2 separate regions of the Homo sapiens genome follow, and region 2 is linked to region 1. Evidence: fine-mapped expression QTL. Tissue or cell type: esophagus mucosa. Region 1 holds a variant in brackets; the other region holds the start of a gene. All regions are shown on one strand. Distances are between the middles of the regions.

Evidence for each region. PIP is the estimated chance that this variant, and not a neighbour inherited with it, causes the effect. A credible set is the group of variants that fine-mapping cannot tell apart.
Region 2: ATP6AP2 starts here. The variant in region 1 is the best candidate, but not a certain one, in a credible set for the expression of ATP6AP2 in esophagus mucosa (GTEx, PIP 0.79).

What each region holds. Positions count from the first base shown.
Region 1 is chrX:40,702,245-40,710,244 of GRCh38, reverse strand. It overlaps MED14 (mediator complex subunit 14), which reads left to right. Exons shown (of 31, transcript NM_004229.4): 9 at 116-266; 10 at 786-897; 11 at 6,676-6,801. Among named protein-coding and RNA genes, the nearest start is that of MED14, 29 kb to the left of the region's middle. The variant A/G (reference allele first, on the strand shown) is at 4,467.
Region 2 is chrX:40,574,685-40,586,766 of GRCh38, reverse strand. It overlaps ATP6AP2 (ATPase H+ transporting accessory protein 2), which reads right to left and starts at 5,797. Exons shown (of 9, transcript NM_005765.3): 1 at 5,665-5,797. The coding sequence starts at 5,701. RefSeq lists a silencer at 5,418-5,727 and enhancers at 5,888-6,097, 6,148-6,297.

The DNA.
Region 1 (8,000 bases):
GGGGGCCTGCCGTATTCCAGGCTGTGGCTAAACTGCACAATGGATTGTCTCTATTTTATTCTAGAAGTTAACAGACTGTGTTGAAAAAAATTCTTCATTTCATTTTTTTCTTTAGTCAACAGGTTCTTGGGAGAAAAACTGGAACAGCATCTGTTCACAAAGTTACAATTAAAATTGATGAGAATGATGTCTCCAAGCCTTTACAGATTTTTCACGATCCTCCTTTGCCAGCTTCTGATTCCAAATTAGTAGAAAGAGCCATGAAGGTAAAAGATCTCAATATATTTTCATATTGGTTTAAATGAATGTAACTTGCCATTTATCCTTAAACTCTTAGCACAAATTTTTAAAAATATCTAATTCTTCCTAAAACCTTTTATGAAACTTATTTTAAGTAAATGTTACACTTCTTACATTTGTTTTTTTAAAACATCTGATACTATAATATATAATTTTTAAGATATTCTTTCATATTTTATAATTTAGATCAGATACCATTTTAATTTTAAGGTCTGGCATTAGAGCACCATAACTGATTTGTAATATCTTCTCCTATTACTTACCAAAATGTTAACTATAGTTTTTAAGCTATCAATTGTAAGTTAATTTTTAACTCAATACCATATTAGTTAATTTTTAACTTTAAGTTTGCTTTCTATTAGGGTTAACACTTAATCAGTGTGATTCCAAAAGGAAATATTTTGAAGCACAGTAATCTACTCTTGGGCTTTTAAAGTAAAAATGTTTAAATTGCACATTTGAATTTGTTGTTCTTATTTATGCAGATCGACCACTTATCAATAGAAAAACTCCTGATTGACAGTGTCCATGCAAGAGCTCATCAGAAGCTCCAAGAACTGAAGGCCATTCTTAGAGGCTTCAATGCCAATGAAAACTGTAGGTTCTTTTAAATTGACATTTGTTTTTCTTTTGTTTAAACTAGAATCCAGTTTTATTTGATGAGAATCTTAATATGACTTTTTCTTGATATTTTGCTTTTATTGTGGAAGCTGGTATTTCTGCATTTTAACTTGTGATCTGCCAAACTTATGCTAATTTTTCCCTTGTTACTTATTTAGCTTGGCCTTATTTTTGAAATATTTGTGTATTGGATTTCCTTAAAACTTTATGAAATGGGGCTGGGCATGGTGGCTCACACCTGTAATACCAGCACTTTGGGAGGCCGAGATGTAAGGATCACTTGAGGCCAGGAGCTTTAGACAAGCCAGGGCAAAAAATGAGACCCCGTCTCTATTTATAAAATTTTTTAAATAAAAAAGAAAAACTTTATGAAACATGAGCTAACATTTTAATATGAACCTTATTTTTAAACTTTTTTCTAGTGATAAAACAGCATTCCAAATATTTATAATATACTTGTAAAATATGCCCCTTTGAGTGAAGCAGAATTCATCCCTTGTCTTTTTAAAAAATTTTTAAAAATTATTAACAGTTCAAATAAGGAATGCAGATACATGGACATAGTGAAAAATCTTCCAAGTTTAATTACCTAGTAAGTATATTCAGAGCTTTGAGGGACAGTCATTTAGAAAGTAAACCCTTTCATTCTGGGAATATAGGTTCGCAACATCATAATGGGCATATTTACTATCCCTGCCCCAATTGTTTTTGGCCATAATTACCTTGTGCCCACAGTGCACAGTCTTTAATTAAGTTAGATGACGTAAGTGAAGTGCCTTATAAGTAGGAAGTCTTAATAGTGCTAGTAACGAAGGTGCTGCCTTTTGTCATCACAGAGCTCAGCTCAATCCATTATACTTAAAGAAGCAGCTTCTTAGGTATGTACTAGTAACTCTGGATTAAAATCACTTTGACAGAAATAGATTTTAAAAAATTGCCTGAAGGAAAGACAGAAAGTTAGAAAAATAAGTGTGTATTTAGAATACATACTCATTCAAGGAAAGTGAAAAGATAGAGGTGAAAGAGGGGATCTAAGATAAACCAAAGCATTAGCTTATATTTTTAAAGAGACTAAGGAGAGGGGCAGCCTAACTTAACAAAAATGCAAATATGGGCCTTAAAAAAGAAATAAAGGATCTGCCAGAAATTTGGTGAATGTATTGGTTAGATGTGTCTTGGGGGTGCCTGTCCATTAGCCCTATCAGGGTTTAACATTAGCTTTATCAGTACTTCATTATCTTAATTTAATTAAAAGCTTCAGTAGAAGGCCCTCCCCTTTAATCCCTCAAGCAAAGATGTTAAATACAGACCTAAAAATTATGATTGGAAAGTATAATTGAAACTCTCACTGGAATTAGAAAGGCTACTAACCACCACTGCCTTTTCGTCTTTTTTTCTTAACAGCTTTATTGAGATATAATTCACATATAATTACCTCATTCAATGGTTTTTACTGAAAGAGTTGTGCAACTATCACCACAATTTGATTTTAGAACATTTTAATCATCCCAGAAAGAAACCGTGTACCCATTAGCAGTCACAACCCATTCACTCCTCTCCCTTCCTGCCTCCCTTTTGGCAATCATTAATCTACTTTCTAACTCTATAGATTTGCCTATTTGGACATTTCATATAAATGGAATCATAATGTGTGGTCTCTTACATACTGTTTTTAACACATTTTTTTTGAGGTTCACAGCATGTTTCAATACTTCATTCACTTTTATTGTCAAATAATCCATTGTATGGCTATACCATCTTTTGTTTATCCATTCATCATTGTTGAACATTGGGGTTGTTTTTCTTTTTTGGCTATTGTGGATAATGCTGCTATGAACATTCATGCCCAAGTTTTTATGTGGACGTAAGTTTTCATTTCTCTTGGCTGTACACCTAGGAGTGTAATGGCCGGGTCTTGTAACTGTTTAACCTTTTGACGTGTTTAACACCACTTTACAATCTAACCAGCAATGTGGGAAGGTTTCATTTTCTCCACATCCTCACCAATACTTGTTATTGTTTGCATTCTTTTACGTGAGGATATGCAGTTATCTCAGTAACATTTGTTGAAGACTATTTTCTCCTGTTTAATTGTCTTGTCACCCTTGTTGAAATTCCCCTTTTGTTCTTTTTTAAGAAATGGAGTCTCACTGTGTTGCCCAGGCTGGTCTCTATCTATCTATCTATCTATCTATCTATCTATCTATCTATCTATCCATCTATGTATCTATTTTAAGTCCATGGCCTGCTGAACAGGCTGGTCTTATGCTCCTGGGCTCAAGCAATCCTACCACATTGGCCTCCCAAAGTGCTGGGATTACAAGCATGAACCACCATGTCCAACTCTTTTGTTCTTAAAGAAGACTTTAAGTATTTTGCAATCTTAATTTTTCTAATTTTTCAAAACTTCGTTTGTTGAGATTCCAGAAAATAGGGAGTTTGTAATCTTTTGATAGGCTCTGGTTTACTTTAGTATCATCTGTAAGCAAGGCTTAGTAAGTTAAAAAACAGAACAAAAACTTAGTAAGTTAAAAAACAGAAACAAAAAACTATGATTGCCAAGGGATAGTTAAATTACTTTGAAAAATAAACTCAAAGCATACGTTTACATAGGAATGGTTTTGTGTGCTGTTCACCTAGGTTCTGAAGATTTCTAAAGAGAAATTTAGAGAAATCTTCAGAACCCAAGTGTAAAATTCCTTTTTGTAGAAATGTTAGAGATCTGAGTTCAGCTGTCTGCTCTTGAACAAGTCATTTACACTATTTGGGCCATTCTCCTCATCTGAAATTTGAGGATATTATAATAGTCCAGGCTCTTCCTAGATCTTAAACTCTAGTAGGAATGTGCTACACCAGTGGTTTTCAAGCCCTAGGTGTTTTGTAGAGTCCCAGGTGTTAGAGAAGGGTGACTTAGGGACTATAATTTGGAAGGAAGGGAGAAGCTTGCATGCGGGGTTGATCTCCTCAGTTCTGCTTTAATCAGGACAGTTCTAGAAATGAGGACTGCTAGAGGAAAGGGTCTGCCGACCCACCATCTTAGGGCATGTGCTTTAACTTGTTCTTTAAATTCATGTGCATGCATTTATACTCTCCATGTAGTCTTACTTGATCCTTTTTTGTGATGGGCGAGCATGCTTTATTAAGATCCTTACTGGGATGAGGGACTACATAGTCTATTCTTAGAATCCCTTAGCGCAGTCACCCTTAAATCAGCTGGCTTTTCTTCTAACACCTAACTGGAATAACCCAAGGAAATGAGTAGCTCAGAGAGTGGAGCATTTCAAGGGAAGGCTAGGGGAAGGCATAGACTTCAGGTTTTGAGCAGCTCAGGCATGTGGTTTCGTGGGGGTAGAAATGGTTTAGGGGAGAGGAGGCAGGACTTTGGAGATAAGTTCCAAAAAAGCAGTGCAAGGTACTAAAGGTAACTTGAGATATGGCCCAGTTGGCAGCATTGCCTAACTCTTGAAAGCCAGGGTGCTGCTCCCTTATGTTGTACTCTACCCTTCAGCACTTATAATCAGGGCATCATGATCAGTTTGGAAGCT[A/G]TGAACCACACACAGCCATTCCTAATTGAGCTTAGTTGCCGCTCTTCACTCTTCACACTTTATATTCTGTCTGTTATCCATTCTCATCTTGTTCTCAATAAATGATAGAAATAAAAGGAGATATATATATGTTCTGGCAGGACGAAATAGCAGCAAGTCCTGTCATCTTACACTGCTTTTAATTCCCTCTTCTTTATTTTCTTTGCAAGTTTCCCCATTTTTGTATACCTAAAACCTGTTGCCTTTAAATGCTTTAGGGCATTGTGTATTTTATTTTCTGTAAAGAAAAATATGGACATTGGTAGTCAAAAAATTGTACATCGATTTGTATCAGAGTATTTCTTGTCTTTTGAACTGTGTTATCTGTATTCTTCTCTGATGCCCTATTTTTCTAAGAATACTCAATTGTGGTAATTAGATTGAAATTATAATTGTTACCCCAATTCCCAGAACTAGTTTTACTCTGTTGCCACGCTTTAGAAATGGTTTTGCTTTAGAGAATTCACTCCTACCCTGTCAGGAATTGTGACACTATGGAAATGTTTCAAAAATCAGCAACTCTGTTTCACATTTGTAATAACTTTTTATTAACATAGTAAGTTCAGCAAAATGTCACTGATTTGAACTAATTTGTCACATTGGTCTGAATTATATGGTAAAAGAAATTTTTGTTTTTGCCCTTTTTGTTCTGTTTTTTTCAGGTCAGAGTTCTGCTGGATTTGCATGTTAAACATTTTGTATACAAATATGTATTAGATGTACAGGTTGAGTATCCCTTATCTGAAATGCTTGAGACCAGAAGTATTTCAGATCTCGGATTTTTTTTGGGTTTTGGAATATTTGCATTTGTACTTACTGGTTGGGCATCCCAAATCTGAAAATCCGAAATCCAAAATGCTTCATTAAGCATTTCCTTTGAGCATCATGTCAGCGCTCAAAAAATTTTGGATTTTGGAGCATTTCAAATTTTGGAGTTTAGGATGCTCACCCTATGTTTTAAAGCAATTTATTTCTCTCTAATTAAATATGTCTTCTGCAATCTTTTACTTTATTAATTTGTTTGATAATTTGTGTAGACAGTACCAATGGTAATGTCATCCATTTGAATTATTGAAAATTTATAGTAAAAGGTTTTGGTTTGTTTCTTTGATTCAAAAGGAATATAGATAATATACATTTGTCAAACACTTTGCTTTTTAAAGCACTTTTACAGCCTTGTCATTTCTTGCTCCTAACAACCTGTGGCATGGAGGGGAAGATGTTATTTTCCTTGTTTGACAAAAAAGCAGGCAGAAGCCACGCCTGGTGAAAGGCCTGCATCGCCACTCCCCTCTGCGCCTGCCACGTTACCTCTCCTTCCGAGCACCTGCATCACCATTCTCCTCTGTATCTGCCTTTTTTTTCTGTGCTGTAGCTTCAGAGGAACTTGGTAACAAGAAGAGCATATTCCTTTTACAACCCCTCAATCTGATCAGCACTTAGTGTGTTTTCAGTGTTTTGCTTGTTTACTGGATTTCATTATGTCACTTGCAGAATTAAGAGAAAAGTTAATTGGGCCTCGTGGAAATACTGTGAAACTCTAGATCAGGCATATTGTCAGCTTTGGGGATTTGTGTTTAGCAATTGCCTATGTTCTTAATTCATCTGTGACTTGAAATGGAGTATACAAATGACTTGAAAAAAATTTTTCTTCCTGGGTAATCAATAATATTTATTAGTTTAAACACATGGGCTCTAATTGCCAGAATACCTCTTTTTTATGAGGAATGGCATTGAAAATCATGAGGCCATAGAAGATATTTATTCTGTTTATAAACAACTAGTTTTCTTTCCATTATACAAAAGAGAAAATCCTTAAAAATTAATTAGCTTATTAGTAATTACCAAGTGAAAGTAAAACTAGAACTCAGCTCACTGATGAAGTTGAATTTTCACTAGCTATTTCAACCCTCTTTAAGAAACTTTGGATTTTTTTTGCTGTAGTATTTGAGACAGGCATGTTTGTTTCAAGTCACCTTGAAAATTACATTCTTTCCTTTTTGAGCTGCTAACTGACATAATAATACTATTGCAAATTTTGCAAAATCATGTTTTTCCTCTAACATTTAGGATCCTTCAATAGTTGGTTTGTTTGTACTCATTGATTGAGAAATAATTTTTCTGGAAAATATTCAGATAGAAAAATAATTTTTAATTCTTGATTGTTCAGCTTCCATAGAGACTGCACTCCCAGCTCTTGTTGTTCCCATCTTGGAGCCCTGTGGTAATTCAGAGTGTCTGCACATTTTTGTAGATTTACATTCTGGAATGTTTCAATTGATGCTTTATGGACTTGGTAAGTTACTAAATGATATAATCATTCAATGTAAGAAAAATTATTTTTAACAAAAACAAAATAAACATTTTCTGTCATTAGGTATTAGAAAGAATGGTATATGCAGTGTTGAAAGTGGGTATGGAAACCATAACTCTGACTGATGTCAGTTCCTCGGGGCCGTTTTAACTACTTTGGATTTTCTTGTAGCAGATGTTAAACTTCCCAGTATAACGCACATTCGTGTTTCCTTATGCAAAATTAATAATGTTGATGGCTGCTGTTTTTTAGGTTAACTTATCTATCCCAGTAGCTCAGTTTCTATTTTACCACTGGGTGACATGGAAATCACAATAAGGAATTCTAATGTCATTTGTGGCTGAAGAACATTTTTATGACAGTAGAAACATCTAAGATGACTTGAGGTACAGAATCCTGGAGGAAAGGATTTTTTTTTCTGGCCTAAACACAGTAGAAATTAAAGTTTGATTTCTTACTTGTTCTGTTACTGAGTCAGTGTTATGAAATGATGAAATAAGAATTTAGTGTTTTTGTATTGCTACTGGACAGTGTTCTTGAATATATTAGGACATCTGCTATTTGAAATTAATATTCAGCTAGAAAGGTTGAAAATAAAGGGCTTTCTGGTTATATTTTATAGCTATAGATTTTTTTTCTATGGGCTGCTCATGGAAAACTGAACTAATTACTTTGAATGACATCACATTTATGATGGCTAAATGACGCATTTATGAATTACTTTAACTGTGGGTTCCAAATAAGGCAAATGTTGTTTGTTCTTAAAAACTTATATTTAGGCCAGGCGTGGTGGCTCAAACGCCTGTAATCCCAGCACTTTGGGAGGCCGAAGTGGGCGAATCACAATGTCAGGAGATCGAGACCATCCTGGCTAACACGGTGAAACCCTGTCTCTACTAAAAACACAAAAAATTAGCCAGACGTGGTGGCGGGTGCCTGTAGTCCCAGCTACTCGGGAGGCTGAGGCAGGAGAATGGCGTGAACCTGGGAGGCGGAGATTGCAGTGAGCCGAGATCGCGCCACTGCACTCCAGCCTGGGCGGTAGAGCGAGACTCCGTCTCAAAAAAAAAAAAAAAAAACAAAACTTATATTTAACTGTTTTTCTGATTATTAACATAGTACATACTCATAAATAAAAAACTTAAACACACAAAAATTAGAAAAGCAACAGAAAATAGTCT
Region 2 (12,082 bases), 130 kb after region 1:
ACTTCTGCTTATTATAAGTATAAGCATGTCTCAGGGATACCTGGCAGAAAGTCACCCCTCCTCTATTTCAATACTACCAGTGATGGGGACACCACCTCAATATACGAACTACATTTGCCAGCAACTGGCTCCATTTTCCTAACATTCTAGTCCTTTGAAAAGTTTTTCCTTGTACTGAACTGAAATGGGCTTCCTAACTTTCAACTTCCTATGCTATCACTCCCCAACTCAGTCTCACCAGATAACCTCATCTCCAGCTTCACAGAGAAAACAGAGGAATTTCTTGAGCTACCTGCTTCCTCTCCCCACCACAAATTTATCTGCATAAGCCCCTATCTGTAACTCCTCTCCCTCCAGACATGAGGGCAGGGATGTCCCTCCTCCAGACTAAGACAATCCTGTGTTCAGTCTTTTTAGGGACCTTTGTTCCTTCACTGTTTGTTAAGGAAGCCACTCTTCTAGGACAGACAACACATCAGGAGTGAGGTGGCTATATGGTAATAGCCATCAAAAGATGGCCCTATAGAATACAAGCTCCATGAAGGCGGGGATTTCAGTGCGTCTTGTTCACACACTATCCCCAGGGCTGAGAACAGAGCCCGACACATTGGTGCTCAATAAGTACTTGTTGAGTTAATGAATGAATGAAGTCACACTTCAAACCACCAGTTTTTTCCCTCTCCACTGGCCCTTTCACTTCAGCATAAAAATACGCTCAAGGCACTCCCATTCTATAACTAAAACCATAAAAAACCTCCTTTGGTCCTACCAGTCTCCACCAGCTACCAGCCTTGCTCCCCTTCAGAGGAAGAATCCAGGAAGAGCAGTCAACCACCGTTTGCTTCTATACTTCATTTTAAGTTTACTACTTAACCCACAAAATTTTAAAAATTTTTTTTATTTTTATTTTTTGAGACAGGGTCTTGCTGTCACCCAGGTTGGAGTGCAGTGGTAAGGATCTCAGCTCACCGCAACCTCCACCTCCCAGGTTCAAGAGATTCTCCTGCCTCAGACTCCTGAGTGGCTGGGACTACAGGCACGCACCACCACGTCTGGCTAACTTGTGTATTTTTTTGGTAGAGACAGGGTTTCACTACGTTGGCCAGACTGGTCTCGAACTCCTGACCTCAAACAATCCGCCTGCCTCGGCCTCCCAAAGTGCTGGGATTACAGGCGTGAGCCACCCCACCTGGCCGCCCACACCTTCCAAGCCCACCATGCCACTGAAACGACTCCCCAAACTCAAAAGGCAATTTCCATCCCTTAATTTTATCTAACTTCCCAAAGCATTTGATACTGGCAACTCCCTCCTTGAAAAGCCCCTGCTTTGGTCTTCATGCAGCCACGGCTCCTGGTTTTCCTTGCAATCCCTTTGGCTGCTTCTCCTCTGTTTCTTTCCCTTCCTGTCCTTTAAAGCAGTGGTAGCCAAACTTTTTAGATTTCAACCCTGTCAGCCCAAAATTGGAAAGTAGCCCTTCTTTCTTCTCTCTGTCCCTCTCATCCTCTCCATGTAAAGTATATACTTCTACTATAGTAATAGATTATGTATTTGATTTGTGCTATATTACAAAGCATACAAAAATAAAAGTTTTTAAAAGGATGAGATACCTGTGTAGTATTTTTCCCAATCTAATAATGAGAAAACATCAGATAAACCCAAATTGAGGGACAGTCTACAAAATACCTGACCATTATTATTCAAAAAGAGATAAGATAAAAATAGGCCAGGCATGATGGCTCACACCTGTAATCCCAGCACTTTGGGAGGCCAAGACAGGCGGATCACTTGAGGCCAAGAGTTCAAGACCAGCCTGGCCATAATGGCGAAACCTCATCTCTACTAAAAATACAAAAATGAGGCCAGGTGTGGTGGCTCATGCCTGTAATCCCAGCACTTTCAGAGGCTGAGGCAGGCAGATCATTTGAGGTCAGGAGTTTGAGACCAGTCTGGTGAACATAGTGAAACCCCGTCTCTACCAAAAAAATACACAAGTTAGACAGATGTGGTGGTGCATGCCTGTAGTCCCAGCTACTCAAGAGGCAGAGCACCTGAGGTTGGGAGTTCAAGACCAGCCTGACCAACATGGAGAAACCCCGTCTCCACTAAAAAAATACAAAATTAGCCAGGCATGGTGGTGCATGCCTGTAATCCTAGCTACTCGGGAGACTGAGGCAGGAGAATCACTTGAACCCGGAAGGTGGAGCTTGCAGTGAGCCAAGATCATGCCATTGCATTCCAGCCTGGGCAACAAGAGTAGTCCCAGCTACTTGGGAGGCTGAGGGACAAGAATCACTTGAACCCCAGAGGCGGAGGTTGTAGTGAGCCGAGATCGTGCCACTGCACTTCAGCCTGGGTGACAGAGCAAGACTCTGTCTCAAAAAAGGAAAAAAAAAAAAAAAAAGATAGAGGCTGGGTGCGATGGCTCACACCTGCGTGTAATCCCAGCACTTTGGGAGGCTGAGGAGGAGGATCACTTGAGCCCAAGAGTTTGAGACCTCATCTCTACAAAAACAAACAAAAAATTAGCTGGGTATGGTGGCATGCGCCTGTGGTCCCAGCTACTAGGGAGGCTGAGGTGGGAGAATCGCTTGAGCCTGGGTGGTCGAGGCTGCAGTGAGCTGTGATCACACCAGTGCACTCCAGCCTGGGTGACGGAGTGAGACCCTGTCTCAAAAACAAAAACAAAAAGGATATAAATGGAATTTCTAGTACATTCATCTGGCATCCAAATGGATCACCTAGCATACTCCACTTTGGAGATCTGAGGGCTCCATTCTTGACTCTTACTGCTTTCCTATTCTACATCTCTCCCAGGCTGAGCCCAACTACTCCTAAGGCTGCAAACACCAAAAACACACCCAATTCACCATCTTTCCACACACTTCTCCTGTATTCTATCTTGAAGGATGATACCACCTTCCTTCCACCCAGTGGCTGGAATCAGTCGTCTTTAAATCTTCCTCAGCAACACAGCTAATTAGCCACTGAATTTCATCTTTTTTTCTTATCTCACAAATCCTTTCCCCTCTATGTCCAGGGCACACTCTTCAGGCCCTCTCCAGGTTTGCTAGAATTGGGTGCCTTATGACCCTTGTCATGCCACTCTCTAATCCAGCCTTTCCCATAACTGCTTCAAAATACAGATCTGATCATTCACCCTTCTGCTTAAATGCCTTCTCTCACTGCCCAGAGACTCTGAGGCAAAACCCAAAGCATTAACACCCAAGAAACCTCATCAGCCTTATTTCTGGTATCTCCCCAACTTAATCCTGTACATTTCAGCCCCACCAAACTACTTGCCCCTTTGCTCTCACATCGCCATGCTTTTACACATGCTGTTCTGTTTCAAATACCTTTTCTTCCCACCCCAACTTTTCAACACATTAGCCCTGGGAGGCACCTCCCATGGGAAATTTTCCTCAGCCTCCCCAGTCTGGGCTAAGTGTCCTTCCCTCTAGGAACTCCACTATACTGTGCTATTATCGTCTACGAATGGTGGATGGAATCAATAATAATAAAAAAATGGATCCTATCTCCCTCTTCTACATGACATCACTTCAAATTCCATGTGTTCACCCTTGGCCTTTCTTCTCCAGGCTAAATATCTGAATTTTATCAAATACGCCTCATGATATGGTATTCAAAATCCTAGTTCCCTTCCTCTCTCTCTAGGTCCCTAGTTCTCCCTCTAGTTTGGCAACACTGTTTTAAAGGATTTCTATTTTTGTTTCTGCCTGGAATAGAGAAGTCAGAGCTCTTAAAGATGTTTTCCACTACATCACATTTAGTCATTGTGGAAAATAATAACTGAACCTCATCTGACAAGACTGAGCAATTCAGAAGCTGACAGGATCAGGTTCTTGTTCTGTATGAACTCGGCTATGCTAGTAAGGAAAACATGTTCAAACCATGTGCAGAAGCAATTATTTTATCTCAGACCCAAAACAAAAAAGCCTATACCTCACTGAATCAAAATAATATCAGTCAAAATATTAAAACATGGAATCTCAATAGATGTTCAGTTAAACCACAGGATCAAAGGGAATATTTTTAAAATTTCAAAAACTGAATTAAAATTAATTCCCTCAAAGTATCTCAGTAGATCAGAAAGACCTTTCCAGAGCCAGAAACAGAAGAAAGAAACAAAGAACTCGAAAACGTTTGGGGCATGGATACAACGTAACTATCATTAACACACAAAACCCCCGCACCTCTAGGGACAGAGATCTGCAGATTTCAAGAGCATACTGGTGCAGAATTAAATCGCCATTCCACAAGCAGGACCTCCCAACACCTCACATAGGTTTTTGGTTTGTTTGTATGTTTGTTTTTGCTTCTGAGACAAGGTCTGGCTCTATCGCCCAGGCTGGAGTGCAATGGCGCGATCTCGGCTCACTGCAACCTCCGCCTCCCGGGCTCAAGCGATTCTCGTACCTCAGCCTCCTGAGTAGCTGGGATTACAGGTGTGCCCCAACACACCCGGCTAATTTTTATATTTGCAGTAGAGATGGCGTTTTGCCTTGTTGGCCAGGCTGGTCTCAAACTCCTGACCTCAGGTGATCTGCCTGCTTCGGCCTCCCAAAGTGCCGGGATTACAGGCGTGAACCACCGCGCCCGGCCTCCCATAGGTTTTAAACTGACACACTGAGATCAGAGCACCCATTCCTCCAAGCCGTTCTCAACTTGGCCTCTTGTTCACTACTGTCTGTGCCTCCAGTCTCAGTCCCCATCACTCCCACATTCTCACACAGTAATAGCGTTACTTGTGCAACACAACATATATAATGGAAAAGGCCGATGCGCTGGCACCACCTCATCTGAAATCAAATCCAGCACCCAACCTGTTTAGTGTTGGGTAATTTATTTAGGTTGATCACCCTGCAAAACAAAGATGATGCCCTCTAAGGACTGCTGTCAAATGAAATACATTACCACATGATATGCAGTAAGAGGCCACGTATTAGCTGATTTCTTCACCTCTTGCTGAATGCTTAGGAATCTAGGTTCTACTCAGAAAGCTACCATTTATTGACATGTGACCCTAAAAATGCGACTCACATCCTGTTTCCAAATCCTTAAAATTTGGAACTCTGACAAACTATTGAGAGGTGCTTTGTATTCGCCTTAAGAAATATAAGTCATATAAAAATAATGACTCCATCTCAACTTTTGCATCCGGAAATATACATAAGGGAAGGGAGGGGCAGGGATTTCAGCAATTACTGATGACAACCACTAGAAATGAAGGCACCATACAAATGCAAAAACATCGTGGCAGCCAGTGGCAGCTAAAAAGTCTGCCTTCTCTTCTTCGCAGCGGGCTGCGACTCAATCCCAGTTCACTGAGAAATGCATCTCCGTACTCTGAAGGGCCTTTTCAGGCGCAAGAAGCCGGCCGGACGCGCCGCCCTCAAAGTGGAGGGTGGAGGCAGGCTCAGGGGCCCCCTACGCAGCCCAGCCCCGGCCCCGGCGGCCCGTGAGGCCGCGCCGCCACGGCCGATCCAGAGAAGATGCTGACGGGGACGCGGCTGAGGCGAGGCCGCCGCTGACGGACCGCACTGCGGCACCTGCCTCGCAGCTACTCGCCCGCGGCCGCCCCCGACCCCCAAGCCCCGCGGCGCAGGACCTCCCCAGGCACGTCCTGCCGGCCCCCGGCTCCTCACCCGCCACCAACGCCAGGAGCACGACAAACACAGCCATGGTGCCGCGGCGGCCGCAGCACTGCGGGGCGACACGGAACGGGCCGGCGGGACACGGGCGACAGCCGCAGCGTGAGGAGGTGACGCGCTCGGACTCGTCCAGGCTCCCGGGTCCCGTCCCTTCGTCGCTTCCGCTGGGACAGCTGCCGCTTTCTCCACCAATCACCAGTTACGCCGCGGCCTACGGAAGGGACGTAACCTGGGAAGCGACAGCCTGATAGGCGGGACTTAAAGTAACGGATGGAGAGTTCTACCAATGGTAGGCAGCGATTGAAAAGTCGGGCAGTCCCGCCCCCCGGTCGGTGATGACGGGTCAAGAGGTGGAGCGTAGGGCGGGTAGTCGGAATGGGTGATGGAGCTAGTCGAGGGGTCCCGGAGCCCACGGGGTGAGGGTGCCTCCCGAGTGCAGATCTTTCTGCCAGTCTCGAGCGACGGTCTCCAACCAGGGTGTCTGTCTTTCCTGGTCGTGTGCCTCCGCCCGGCTACGGACGCCAGCTGTGAAAGGCGGGGCTGGTTGGGGTTTCGCTCTAACAAGTATACAGACGCCGAGCACCTACTGGGAAGAAGCCAGGCGCAACGGGGAACCCCTGCCTTCCACATAGTGGTGCCAGATAAAATACAGGGCGCCCAGTTAAATTTGAATTTCATGTAAACAACGATTATTTGTTATTATGTCGCAATTAATTTATGGGACATACTTGTATTAAAAGAAGTATTACTGGTTATCTGAAATTCAAATATAACTGGGTATCCTATATTTTGATTCGCTAAGTCTGGCAACTCTACCTCCAAAGACTTTCCAATCTACAAGGAGTCATGGGACAGAAAGTTAATTAATTACTTAATTTGTCCATTCACTCAGTTTCCAATCTGGGCAAGGTGTTCTATGAGGATGTATGAAGGCTAGACATAGTAATTAGACCAGGCTCCTCCCCTCCCGCAGTTCATAGTCTTTTGCCTATGATGTGAGGCAAGAAGGGACACACTATAGCGTCTGTAGGTAGAAAATGACGCCCCAGCTGATGACCTTGAAAGGTGGAAATGATTTCATATCCAAGGATAGGAGATGGGGAGATTGTTCCAGTGAAAACTGTAGTTAAGGTGGGGAGAAAGCCCCGTCAGGTTAAGCATCAGTAATCAAATAAGAGATTATATGAGAGAGGAGGCACAGAGCTAAAACTTTCAGTTAGGCACATTTATTGAGGATTTTAAATTGTACATAAGAGACCTACACTAAGCCATTGAAGGCGTTTGAGCATGATTTACTGCACAAATGTAAGACAGACTTATTGGCGGGGGGGAGGGGGGGAATGCCTTACTGTTTCTTCAGTTTCCAGTCCCATTTTCTTCTTGGAGTTTCCTGAGGATGAAAAAATGAGAGCGAGTTAAAAACAGTGACCCCAGGAGTTCCCCAGGTAGCAGACCCACCCTAGGAAAACCTTGCCCAACTGAAAACTGAATCAGAAAGACACTCTCGAGGCCAGGTGTGGTGGCTCACACCTGTAATCCCAGCGCTTTGAGAGGCCGAGGTGGGAAGATCCTTTGACACCAGGAGTTGAAAACCAGCCTGGATAACATAGTGAGGCCCTGTCTTTTTATTATTAGAAAATAAAGAAAGCAAAAAAAGAGAAACACTCACTAAATAGTTTGAACTTTCTAGAACACACTATGCTTACCAAAGCCACTCTCAAATTTAGGGAACAGAGTCGATTTCCTCACCTAACGTCAAGAAACAGGAAACTCTCAAACTTGCTTTTCCTCTAGAGGAGAATTTGTACAAATGGGACTTTAGAGAACTCTGAAAGGGAGAAGAGAGATTTTTCCATCAGGCATGTGAAATTATTAGAACCAAAATGTCTAAAGCACCCCTCCAAAACATCCACTCTAATGTGACTGACTCGAAAAAAATTAATCACTTTTTTTGTTGTTGTTGAGACGAAGTTTCCCTCTTGTTGCCCAGGCTGGAGTGCAGTGGTGCGATCTCAGCTCACTGCAACCTCCAACTCCCGAGTTCAAGCAATTCTCCTGCCTCAGCTTCCCAAGTAGTTGGGATTACAGGCGCCAACCACCACGCCCGGCTAATTTTTGTATTTTTAGTAGAGACGGGGTTTCACCATGTTGGCCAGGCTGGTCTCGAACTCCTGACCTCAGGCGATCCACCCACTAAAGCCTCCCAAAGTGCTGAGATTACAGGCGTGAGCCACTGCTCCCGGCGGAAAAAAATTAATCATTTTTAAAAATTCATTTTTAAGCATGATAAATTCACAATCTTTTCACACCAACTAAAATTCTTTGTCCATCTCCCTGCATGTCTTAGAACAGGTTTTGAATCACAGGCCCTGCAAGAACTTATCTAAACCTTATTTAGGGACATAATCAGCTAAAAGTGGAGCAGACCTCCTGCCATTTCATCCAGCTTAAGGAAACAGGGAAAGGAGTGAATGTTTCTGTTCTTAAGACTTCTAGTACATTCTTATTTCTTTGAATTTGAGGAAGATGAAAAAATTTGTAAATAGACTGGAATATAAAATAAGTCCCCACCCCCCCATTCCCCCAGAAAACCTCACAATCTTTCACAATCCATTTATGTCTTGAGAAATAACATCCCCTTTTGAGCTAACAGCGAATAGTGTATTCTTTACACCTAAGGGCCCTTTTCACCTGAGGTTGCAAAGGGGCATTGTTGTTCTCTACAACCTTGGAATTTAGCAAGATAAACATTGTCGGAAGCCCTCTCCTTGTTTCATAGATTGAGAGATTGAAGCCTAGGGAAGGGCATATGTACTCAAGGTCATATTCTGAATCGTCAGCAGTTCTGCTTCGTGAATGCAGCCCTGCTGATTCAATCTTTAGCGCTCAGTAAACAACTGGTGATGTGCGGTTAACTTTTCCACTGAAGCATTTAGAGATGGATATGTGTGTAGCAGGGTAATACAATATTTGAAGTTATGACCCCATTTGTTAGCCTAAAAGAAGCCTTTCTCCACCCTCCCCACAGGCCAAATAGGCAAGACTGCAGCCATCCGTTGCCCTGAGGGGAGGACTCTCAGGAGAACCTGAAAACAAATGTCAAATTCTTGGCTCTTGAGTTTCAAAACTAGAGGTCCAGATGCAAGATTTGAAAGAATACATAATTCCATTTGCTTCCTTAAGTCTCGCCCTCGTCCCCCAATTAAGTCCAGCAGTGAGTTCTGAGTGATCCCGGAGTGAGCGCGATAACATGAGCTGATCCCTGCAAATGAGACATCCCATCCAGGAGCCCTGTGGAGGCGAAGATCATGCCCCTCTCCCAGACCATGCAGTTAAAATTAAGAATTTATGTTCTTCAAAAGGTACTATATACACTATGGAAAGGTGTGGGGGAGGGGAGAGCAGCTTTGCAGTGCAAAAACCCAACAAATACTATCTAGGCGATGTGATCAAGGTCAACACCAACAGTGATCGGTCATGTTGACAGTGTGTGCCCTTGATGTGATACAATGATAATGGCAGGCACTTCACCTCTATGATCTTCCTCCCCCATACCCATAACCCCAGTGTAATCATGAGAAAAACATCAGATAAATGCCAATAGAGGGGCATTCTACAAAATATCTGACTGCTGCTCCTCAGAAGTCATCAAAAACAAGGAAAGTCTGGGCTGGGCGCGGTGGCTCACACCTGTAATCCCAGCAGTTTGGGAGGCCTAGGCGAGTGGATCACTTGAGGTCAGGAGTTCAAGACCAGCCTAGTCAACATGGTGAAACCCCATCACTACCAAAAAATACAAAAATTAGCCAGGTATGGTGGTACGTGCCTGTAGTCCTAGCTACTCGGGAGGCCAAGGCGGGAGAATCGCTTGAACCTGGGAGGCGGAGGTTGCAGTGAGTCAAGCTTGTGCCACTGCAATTTAGCCTGGGCGACAAAGTGAGACCCTGTTTCAAAAGAAAAAAAAATTAGCCAGGCATGGTAGCGCATACCTGTAGTCCCAGCTACTGGGGAGGCTGAGACAGGAGGATCACTTGAACCCAGGAGGTTGAGACTGCAGTAAGTCAAGATCTCATCATTGCACTCCAGCCTGGGTGACAGAGGGCAACGCTATCTCCAAAAAAAAAAAAAAAAAAAAAAAAAACCCAGAAACTATATTTTTAAAGAATCCAGCATAGATGACAAAAGTTTAAAGAAAAGCAAGGAAATGGTTACCATAAAAAATTAGAACAGTGATTACCTCCAGGGTGGAGGGGAGAAAGATATGTCTGAAAGAGACATGGAGAAGTATTTAGGGGTGCTGGTCATTTCTGAATGGTGGTGGTGGTTGTCACACTAGTGTTCATTTTGTGATTATCCATATTCTGAGCATTGATATTGTATGTTCACTTGTGTGCTGTATTTTCCAGTAGAAAGGTTTTAAAAATCTAGTTTGCTTTTTTTGAGTCTTGAGAAGGAGCACTTCTTTTTGACTTGGTAGAAATTATTTGTATGTGGTTTCAAATTATGTTTGCAAAATCTTGTGTTTACAAAACATGTCTTCAGTGAGTGTGGAAGTTTCCAAAGAAAGGCCAGTGTTGTGGTTGGCATGCTAATGGCTGTCTTCCGAGAGATAGTAGAGATGCTATCTCCTGTGGGAATTCACTATGAGGCAAAAGCCAGGCTTTGGCCTTCCAGCCTGAGAATCCCAGTTCTATCAGCATCCGAGAGTTAATCCAACTGGGTGACATCAACCCAAAATAATAAACTCATAAGATCTTAATGTTGCGAACAGCAGTTTGTTCATTTACAGTGAGATATATAAGTATGTAGTAGTCTGCATATTCATGTCAACCTGGCTAGTGTTTTCTCTCCAAAAATGCAAGTGACATAGGACTCTTTGAATTAGTCAGAATAGACTTGGTGAGTATACAATCAGAGCAAATATTTAATGCATTAAGCTCTGTTGTATCCATGTCCACATCTGGAACGTACACACGAAGCAGACTGAATATTTGTTTCAGACTGACAGGGCACTGTAATAAACCATATATTGGGGATGACTACAAGGACCACACCTTGCCATTTATGATAGCTTCCCACCGTTTCCATGACCTCTACGGTCCTGTCTGTACCTTTTTTTTTTTTTTTTTTTTTTGAGGCGGACTCTTGCTCTGTTGCCCAGGCTGGAGTACAGTGGCGCAATCTCAGCTCACTGCAACCTCCGCCTCCCGGGTTCAAGCGATTCTCCTGCCCCAGCCTCCTGAGTAGCTAGGATTACAGGCACATGCCACCACACCCAGCTAATTTTTGTACTTTTGGTAGAGATGGGGTTTCACCATGTTGGCCAGGATGGTCTTGAACTCCTGGCCTCAAGTGATCCACTCGCCTTGGCCTCCCAAAGTGCTGGGATTAAAGGCATGAGCCACTGTGCCCGGCCCTGTCTGTACTTTATGAGTCCACATCCCTGGCAGACTAAAGCAGGAGTGGTCACATGACCCAGACTGGGCCAATGGGCTTCTCTATCCTAGAATTCTGGGATTGAGGCCAAAAGATGCTAGTGATTCTTGTATAACAGTTGAACAGGGAGACCTATGAATTACCATCTTTTGCCACATACTCAGAGGTGGAGAAGCTGGGCTGCAGAAAGAGAGGAGCAAAGCAAACATCCAGAGACAAGTAGACAGGAAAGACCAAATGTGCCTGCAATTCCTGCCAGCTCTAAAATTATTTTCTCATCCGTGGGGAGACTCAGCTGCATCCCCTGATTTAGAACTATGTGTGATGGCCCAGAATTCTTATAACTCAACCTCCTCTTCTTTAAAAATTATTGTTATTATTATTATTATTATTATTATTATTATTATTATTATTATATTTTGAGACGGAGTTTCGCTCTGTTGCCCAGGCTGGAGTGCAATGGCGCAATCTCAGCTCACTGCAACATCTGCCTCCCGGGTTCAAACGATTCTCCTGCCTCAACCTCCCGAGTAGCTGGGATTATAGGCATGCGCCACCATGCCTGACTAATTTTTGTATTTTTAGTAGAGACGGGGTTTCGCCATGTTGGCCAGGCTGGTCTCGAATTCCTGACCCCAGGTGATCCACCACCTCCGTAAAAATTATTTTTAATTGTAATAAAATACAGGTAACATAAAATTGACCATCTTCACCATTTTAACTGTACAGTTCAGTGGCATTAAGTACATTCACATTGTTGTGCAGCCATCACCACAGTCCATCCCCAGAACTCTTTCATCTTGCAAATCTGAAACTCTCTACCCATTAAACAATAATTCCCCATTCCCCCATTATGCCAGACCCTGGCAACCACTGATCTACTTTCTGTCTCTATGAATTTGACTACTCTAGACACTTTGTCTAAGTGGAATCATACAGTATTTATCTTTGTGTGACTGGCTTATTCCACTTAGCA